2 linked regions of the Homo sapiens genome follow. The protein of the gene in region 1 interacts with the protein of each later gene in a pairwise test. Each region holds a gene or a part of one and is shown on either strand. Other genes may lie near its edges.

What was found. Proteins that work in one complex are often made in the same cells at the same time.
Region 2: the proteins of ARID1B (region 1) and SMAD9 interact in a two-hybrid assay, tested with the Homo sapiens proteins (one large-scale study listed by BioGRID and IntAct).

The regions. Positions count from the first base shown.
Region 1 is NC_000006.12:157,200,378-157,203,877, reverse strand, and holds part of ARID1B (AT-rich interactive domain-containing protein 1B), read right to left. Parts: intron 3,174-3,500; coding exon 2,390-3,173; intron 13-2,389; coding exon 1-12. UniProt on the Homo sapiens protein: Involved in transcriptional activation and repression of select genes by chromatin remodeling (alteration of DNA-nucleosome topology).
Region 2 is NC_000013.11:36,878,739-36,882,238, reverse strand, and holds part of SMAD9 (mothers against decapentaplegic homolog 9), read left to right. Parts: intron 1-1,461; exon of another isoform or gene 1,462-1,950; intron 1,951-2,363; 5' UTR 2,364-2,549; coding exon 2,550-2,961; intron 2,962-3,500. UniProt on the Homo sapiens protein: Transcriptional modulator activated by BMP (bone morphogenetic proteins) type 1 receptor kinase. SMAD9 is a receptor-regulated SMAD (R-SMAD).

The DNA.
Region 1 (3,500 bases):
CCTCAGGAGTAACTGAAGATGGGGAAGAACAAGGATATCATGAATGTTGACTCTATGCATGAAAGAACGAAAGTTAACGAAAGAGTAAGAAAAAATAAGTGGAGTGTTAAGTTAAATATTGACTTTAAACAAATGCTCTCAAGGACAGTTAAGCGTGATCATTTCCGATTTTAAATGGAGGCCATAGCTGTAACGAGAAACTTTTGTGGTTTCAGATCTCGCTTTGTTGGTCACGCAGGGGCCGAAAGTGCTTCTGGAGGTGGAGTGGTTGAGCACAGATGGTCCTTTCTCATGGCCGGGTTATTTCTTTCAGCCACCCTACAGAGTCTGCAATGTGGTATCAGAGCTTTTAATAAATGAGTCAAACCCAAAAGTGGTATTTGTCTTCTTTTGGCTTCACCACTCACGAGTGTCTCAAGGTGGCGTCCTGGAAGGCCGCCAAGTATGCAGAACATGGAAGCAAAATTTAACTCCAAGACAGCCTCCTCAGACACACGGCCTTGGCTTCCCAGGCTGCTTTCCTCTAGTCCTGTGCTCCTGCCCTCAGAACATGCTGTGATAAATATTAGCACTTTGATGGCTCAGATTTCTCAGGAGTATGGCTGGAGCCACAGAATGGGAAGTAATTTGTTGTTTTCCCTATTCCTGCTACTGAAGGAAACAAAATGATCAGGTAGAAAGTTTGGAAGATTTGCCATGAGACCCAGCTCGGCCAGATCCCTGGAGCTGCCTGGAGGCTGGGGGCATTCTCCAGGCACCAAGAATCATTGCATGAGGGGGAGACACCGTGGCTTTTCCACTTTTATTTTATCTGTTTTAAAATTTTCTAAGATAGCTACATACTGTTTTTACAATAAAAAAATCAAAATTACTTTTAAAAATAAACATGTAAATTTCCCTAGGTTGAAGACAAATGCTATATAACCCGCACTGGGAGATTTTTAGAAAATTTAGATGTATTTATTTAAACATACATATACACACATAAACACACAATACACGTGTGTGTGTGTGTATATATTTCTATATATAAAATGGTGCTCAGTGTCTGTGTCTCCTTCTCTCCCTCTGCAACCCCATATAAATACACACACACACATATTCTATATATATCTATATATCTATATTTATATCTATCTATATATATATATAAAGGGATATAGATACACATGCATTATATATAAATGGATAGATATATATAAAGGAATATGTGTGTGTGTGTGTGTGTATACAGTGGCACAGTCACTGCTGAAGCCTTGATCTCCTGGGCTCAAGTGATCCTCCTACCTCAGCCTCCTGAATAGCTGGGACTACAGAAATGAATCTCACTTTTGGCTAATTTTTTTTCTTTTTAGTAGAGACGAGGTTTTGCTAGGTTGTCCAAGGGTGGTCTCGAATTCCTGAGTTCAAGTGATTCTCCTGCCCTGGTCTCTCAATCTACATCTCCTTAATGTCCAGTGATTGATGTCTTTCAAATTATTAATATCTTTAATTTTCTAATCACTGAAAAAGATTTTAAGTCAATTTGTTCTTGATATTTTTTGAGTAATTTTTCCTAATATAACTCAGATCTATTATCTTCCTTCCTGTGTTAAAAGTACTTCAAAAATAATGCAGAAACCCTGTGTGTACTTCCAGATAGTCCAGACCTCTGATTAGTATTCAGAACATCCCACAGAGGATAAACAAGCAACATCAGCATTCGATTGACATGGTTCTTGGCCCAAGTCTACCAGTGCATTGGATGATATCAGTTCTATGTATCACAGCATAGCATATTCTTTATGTCATACCATCTATCAATCTACATATTACATACAAGCTTTAACTTTTTCCCACGGAAATTCACTGTATGTTGTCACCAAATTACAGAGTGGCTTGCCTTCAGATTTTCTCAGGTCACCTTTAGCATTTCATTAGCCTCATGGGGGGGTCTGTTAGGCACGTATTGTAGTGATTAAGTGGCTTGGTTAAGTTCAAATCTTTAAGCCCAAAATACAGCATATAACCACTCAGGATTCCCTGATCTCTTACTTGAAGCTCTAATCTTTCACACAAATAACATTCACACGTAAAACTACCATTTTATTTCACCGTGTTATCCAGGATGGTCTCGATCTCGTGACCTCGTGATCCACCCGCCTGGGCCTCCCAAAGTGCTGGTATTACAGGCATGAGCCACCGCGCCCGGCCAATCTTTCTGGCACTATTTCTTAATTCAGATTAGCAGCCTCCAACTATATTACTCCTATATAAAAACGCATCTTGATAACTTCTAGTCATAATTTTTTCATCCCTTTAAGATGAGCAGGAACAGCATCTTTACTAAAATTAAAATTCTACACTGCAACTGGAATTCATTTCAGAATGAAAGCTTTGGAATTCTTACCGATATCTTTGGAGGTAATCTTTCGCCTTTGTTTCAAGACTGGTTGTGATGCTTCTACTGAGCCAGGAGGAAAGGTGATCTCCCTTCTGATTGGGGGTGGTTGGGGTGGTGGCCCGGTGACCTGGGATGTGGGGACCGTGGGCATGACCTTCTGCATCTTCATAGACGGCAGAAAAGGAGACTTGCTTGGAGACATGCGGTTCTCCAGGGAGCGCTGGAAGGACGCTGGGCTGGGCGCCCTGGAGATGTGATTTGGCAGTGACGGTGGCGTCTGGTAGGACGGCTGTGGTGGGCGTGTGATGGGCTGCATGGAGGCTGAGGACGACATATAAGGCTGACGCTGGCTGACGTGAGAAGGCCACTGGCTCTCATGATTTATCCTCTGATCGGGTACCATCATATCGTCTGTGCGGTTCATGCCTGGGTAAGGGGGCGCCTGTGTAGGGCCGCCAGGGCCCTGCCTGTTCTGGTAGGGATAAGGCATATCATTGCGTGCTGCCCACATATTCTGCTGAGGCCCCTCACTGGAGGACGACTGCAGCGGGCCGCCCATCATCTGAGGCGGGATTCCGTGTGTCTGGATCTGCCCCGGGCCCTGCATCCTCTCCCTGCTGTAGGGATACGGGTACTGGCCCTGGATGGGCCTGCGGTCCGGGCCCGAGTAGGAGCCTCCATACTGGTTGTACATCTCCTGCTGCTGGCTGCTGTACTGCATGTTGTACATGTCGCCCTCGTGGCGCTTGGCTGGGGGCCCGTACATGCCGTCCATATGGCGTTTGTAATTCTGGAATTCACAGAAAGACAAATCATCCTGATGTGCTCTTACAGGTATAATCACACACTGAAATTATGCAAAATAGTTATTACCTGCTAGAATGTTCATTTCAAAATGAATATGGGAAGCTCCTATAACAACAGAGAACTAACAATTTATGTTCAATATTTCAGTATTATATACACCATGTCACACACTGAGGAGAGAGCATCCAAAGTTTGTTTTCACGTGTTTGAAACTTCCTGTGGAAAAAAAAAAGCCTCCTCTCCTTAGGCTGTGCCACCGGGACAGCCAGCGTTCAACTCCCACACAGGCAGACGGCTCCCGGGCTGGGAG
Region 2 (3,500 bases), on another chromosome or scaffold:
ACACACACACAGCACATACCTGTGAATGAAAATTTTTCATGAAATGATTATTATTATACTTATTTTTCGTCAGCTGCTCTGCAATAAAGTCTGTTTTGTTTTGTTGTTTGTGCAAAAGCTGTTTTGTTCCAATTCATTGATTTCACATGCCATTGGTAAATAGAAACCCACAGTTTAAAAAAACGAACCAAACAAAACCTGGTTTAGGGAACTGTTGTTTCATGGAGCAAAAGTTTCTAAAAGGTGTATTTGGTTTAACTCGCTGAGTGTTTTTATAAAAAGCTTTTCTCTATGACTGACCTCAGCTTAAAGATCTATACCACAACTTACTAATAATGAGTTCCATGTAAAACTAAGCAGAATTCACAACTCTTTTGGGGTTCAGGTTATTCTATCATGAGACTTCTCCTTAAAGCTTCTAACCCTCTTCAGCCATTGCTTTAAGGCAGCCTGACTAGATTAAGTAAACAGAACTTGAACACAATGACTTAACTATACTTTATAAATTCATGATTGTTAAGCCACAAAATCAACCTTTCCAAATAAAACTGAGTGTAAGTCAAACTGCCAAGCGAAAAGAGCAGCTATGGAGCTCTCAACTCTCCCTTTTGTCATAGTTTATCTCTGTACAATGCCAGATAAAGCCCAGATGAGGAATAAAGTGATGTGACTATTGCTTTATACTTATTAAATCTCATCCGTTATTGTGGGACCATGCTGCCATCCTCCTCACCTGAGGTGCCCGATAATGATCACCCTAGCGGGGGGTTATAAGGCACCTTTGTTCGAAAGAAGTTTATAGAATTGGACTCAGAAAGGTACAGCTTGCCCTCCAGGGAAGCAAAGGAGAAAATTATATTTAATGCATATTAAACAAACAATTGTTGGAGATTATAAGCTACATCGATTCCAAGATCCCAAAATACTTGAGTCAGCTTACTCCAAAATGTTACCAGCCAGCCACTTTAAACATTAATGAGGTAGCTGGTTTCTAAAATCTGGAAGGAGGAGGAGGTTTTGTTTAAGCCAACTATTTCACAGAAGAGGAAATACAGTTCGACCTCAGGAAATTTAAATGAGACTGCTGAATAACTGGGAAAGAACATCTCCTGTGGATGACAGGGCAAAGAAGAATTAAGCTGATTTTAGGCCAAATAACAAATGTGACAGCTGTGCTTTTTTGTGTATGTATTGGTGTGTGATAGTGTATAATTTCTAGAAAAGCAGTTCTCATGCATTTGGGTCTTGAAAATTTCCACTTTTAAAAATTATTGAGAACTCCAAAGAACTCTTGCTTCTGTAGGCTGTATCTATCAATTTTTACCATTTTAAAAATTGAAACTAAGAAATTAAAAAAATATTGATTGAATCATTAAAAAAACTGTATTAACATAAAATATTTTTATTTAAAACATTGTTTTCAAAAAAGTTATTGAGAAGAGTATTATTGTTTTATATTACTGCAAATCTATTTAATACTTGGCTTAATAAATGGCACCTAGATTGTCATCTTTTCTCCATATACTCTATTGTGTTATGTTGTTTTGGTTGAAGTATGTGAAGCGAAGTTAGTTCACACAAATAAGTAATTGGAAAAGAGAGAACCTCATAGTCCCCTTAAAAGGATCTCAGGGGACTCCCAGGGATCCTTGGGGCACACTTTGAGAGCCACTGTCCTGAAAAGTAGTTTGGAAGACTATGTTAAGAATGGCTGTCCAGGAGTGGTGAGATTATTCACGATTCTTTTTTTCTTTTCTTTTCATTAGTATTTATTTTCTACAAGAAGATGGATTGCTTGTGCAAACTAAAAATGAGAAAGAAAGAACATACTCATGTTGAGGGCAGATTATGGAGGCCCTGGAAAAACCCAGGCAGAGGAGTTTACACTTGGGAGACCAAGGAGCCACTGTCATTTCTTAAATGGGAAAATGATAAGAGCTGTGTTTGGGAGTAAGTGAATTCGAATTGAAAGAGAGAAAGAGAGATGCTACTTCAGAGAAGTGGTGTGGTGAGTCAGACCTCAGGTGTTGGCAGAAATGGAGAGAAAGGACAAACTCCAAAGACTTTGAGGGCAGAATGACCTGAGACCTGGATATAGGAAATACAGGAGAGGGCAGAGTCAAAGACAACAGTTTTAAAATTAAAACATTTGAAGAATGTTTTTTCCCTTCTATCCAACTTTGGGGCCTGGTTCTGTTGCTCAGGCTGGAGTGCAGTGGCGCAGCCTTGACCTCCTGGGCTCGAGCCATTCACCCACTTGAGTAGCTGGGACTGTAGGTGTAGATTGCCTCTTTCTATCCAACTTCAACTTTTTCTGAATGTTACTCCGATTAAGCTAATTGAAGTCTTGTCGTGTTTTCCAGAGTTGGCCACCCTGTTCAAGGGCTTAGGAGAAAGTCAACACACTTCGCAACTTGAATTGGTCCCAGCTGCTCCCAGAAGAACGGGCGGGTTGGTCCCTATGCCACCCCTGGAGAGCTACTCGCCGCCCACTTTGCCGTGAAGGGCTGTGCGGTTCCCGTGCGCGCCGGAGCCTGCTGTGGCCTCTTATGCACTCCACCACCCCCATCAGCTCCCTCTTCTCCTTCACCAGCCCCGCAGTGAAGAGACTGCTAGGCTGGAAGCAAGGAGATGAAGAGGAAAAGTGGGCAGAGAAGGCAGTGGACTCTCTAGTGAAGAAGTTAAAGAAGAAGAAGGGAGCCATGGACGAGCTGGAGAGGGCTCTCAGCTGCCCGGGGCAGCCCAGCAAATGCGTCACGATTCCCCGCTCCCTGGACGGGCGGCTGCAGGTGTCCCACCGCAAGGGCCTGCCCCATGTGATTTACTGTCGCGTGTGGCGCTGGCCGGATCTGCAGTCCCACCACGAGCTGAAGCCGCTGGAGTGCTGTGAGTTCCCATTTGGCTCCAAGCAGAAAGAAGTGTGCATTAACCCTTACCACTACCGCCGGGTGGAGACTCCAGGTGGGTCGTCTTTACGACGTCAAGGTTTATTTTCAGAGTGAAGGTCGTGTGCCCCATTGATGGAGAATGATGGGGCACCAGCAGACAGGGACCTCTCCCAAAAGAGAGAGAGAGAAGAGAGGAGAGGGAGGTTCAGTTTTGAGGGACTCGTCCAAAATTTTGTTTCCCGGAATGAGGCAGCTGTCCAATCAAAGAAAGTTCCCATGAAAACGATATTCCTGCCTGGAATGCCACAGGAACACTCAATCCAAAGAGAATCGCAGTAAAACCCTGTTATAGCCAGTGTGAAGGAATGAAGATAAACTAGTCAGGAAAATCTAGAAAGAAGATATTTTCATTTGATTTCATTATGCTGGTAAGCTTTGTGTGATTTTGAAAATGAGGCAGATGGCTAATCGGAGAAAACTGCCATAAAAGTTTTATTTTGAGGTATCTGGGACAAGTCAACATAATCTTTTACCAGTTCTTGGGGTCCTGAAAGGTTTTAAAATGGCCTTGATAATGATGAGCTGTAAAAATTAAACATCCTCCTCCCCCCG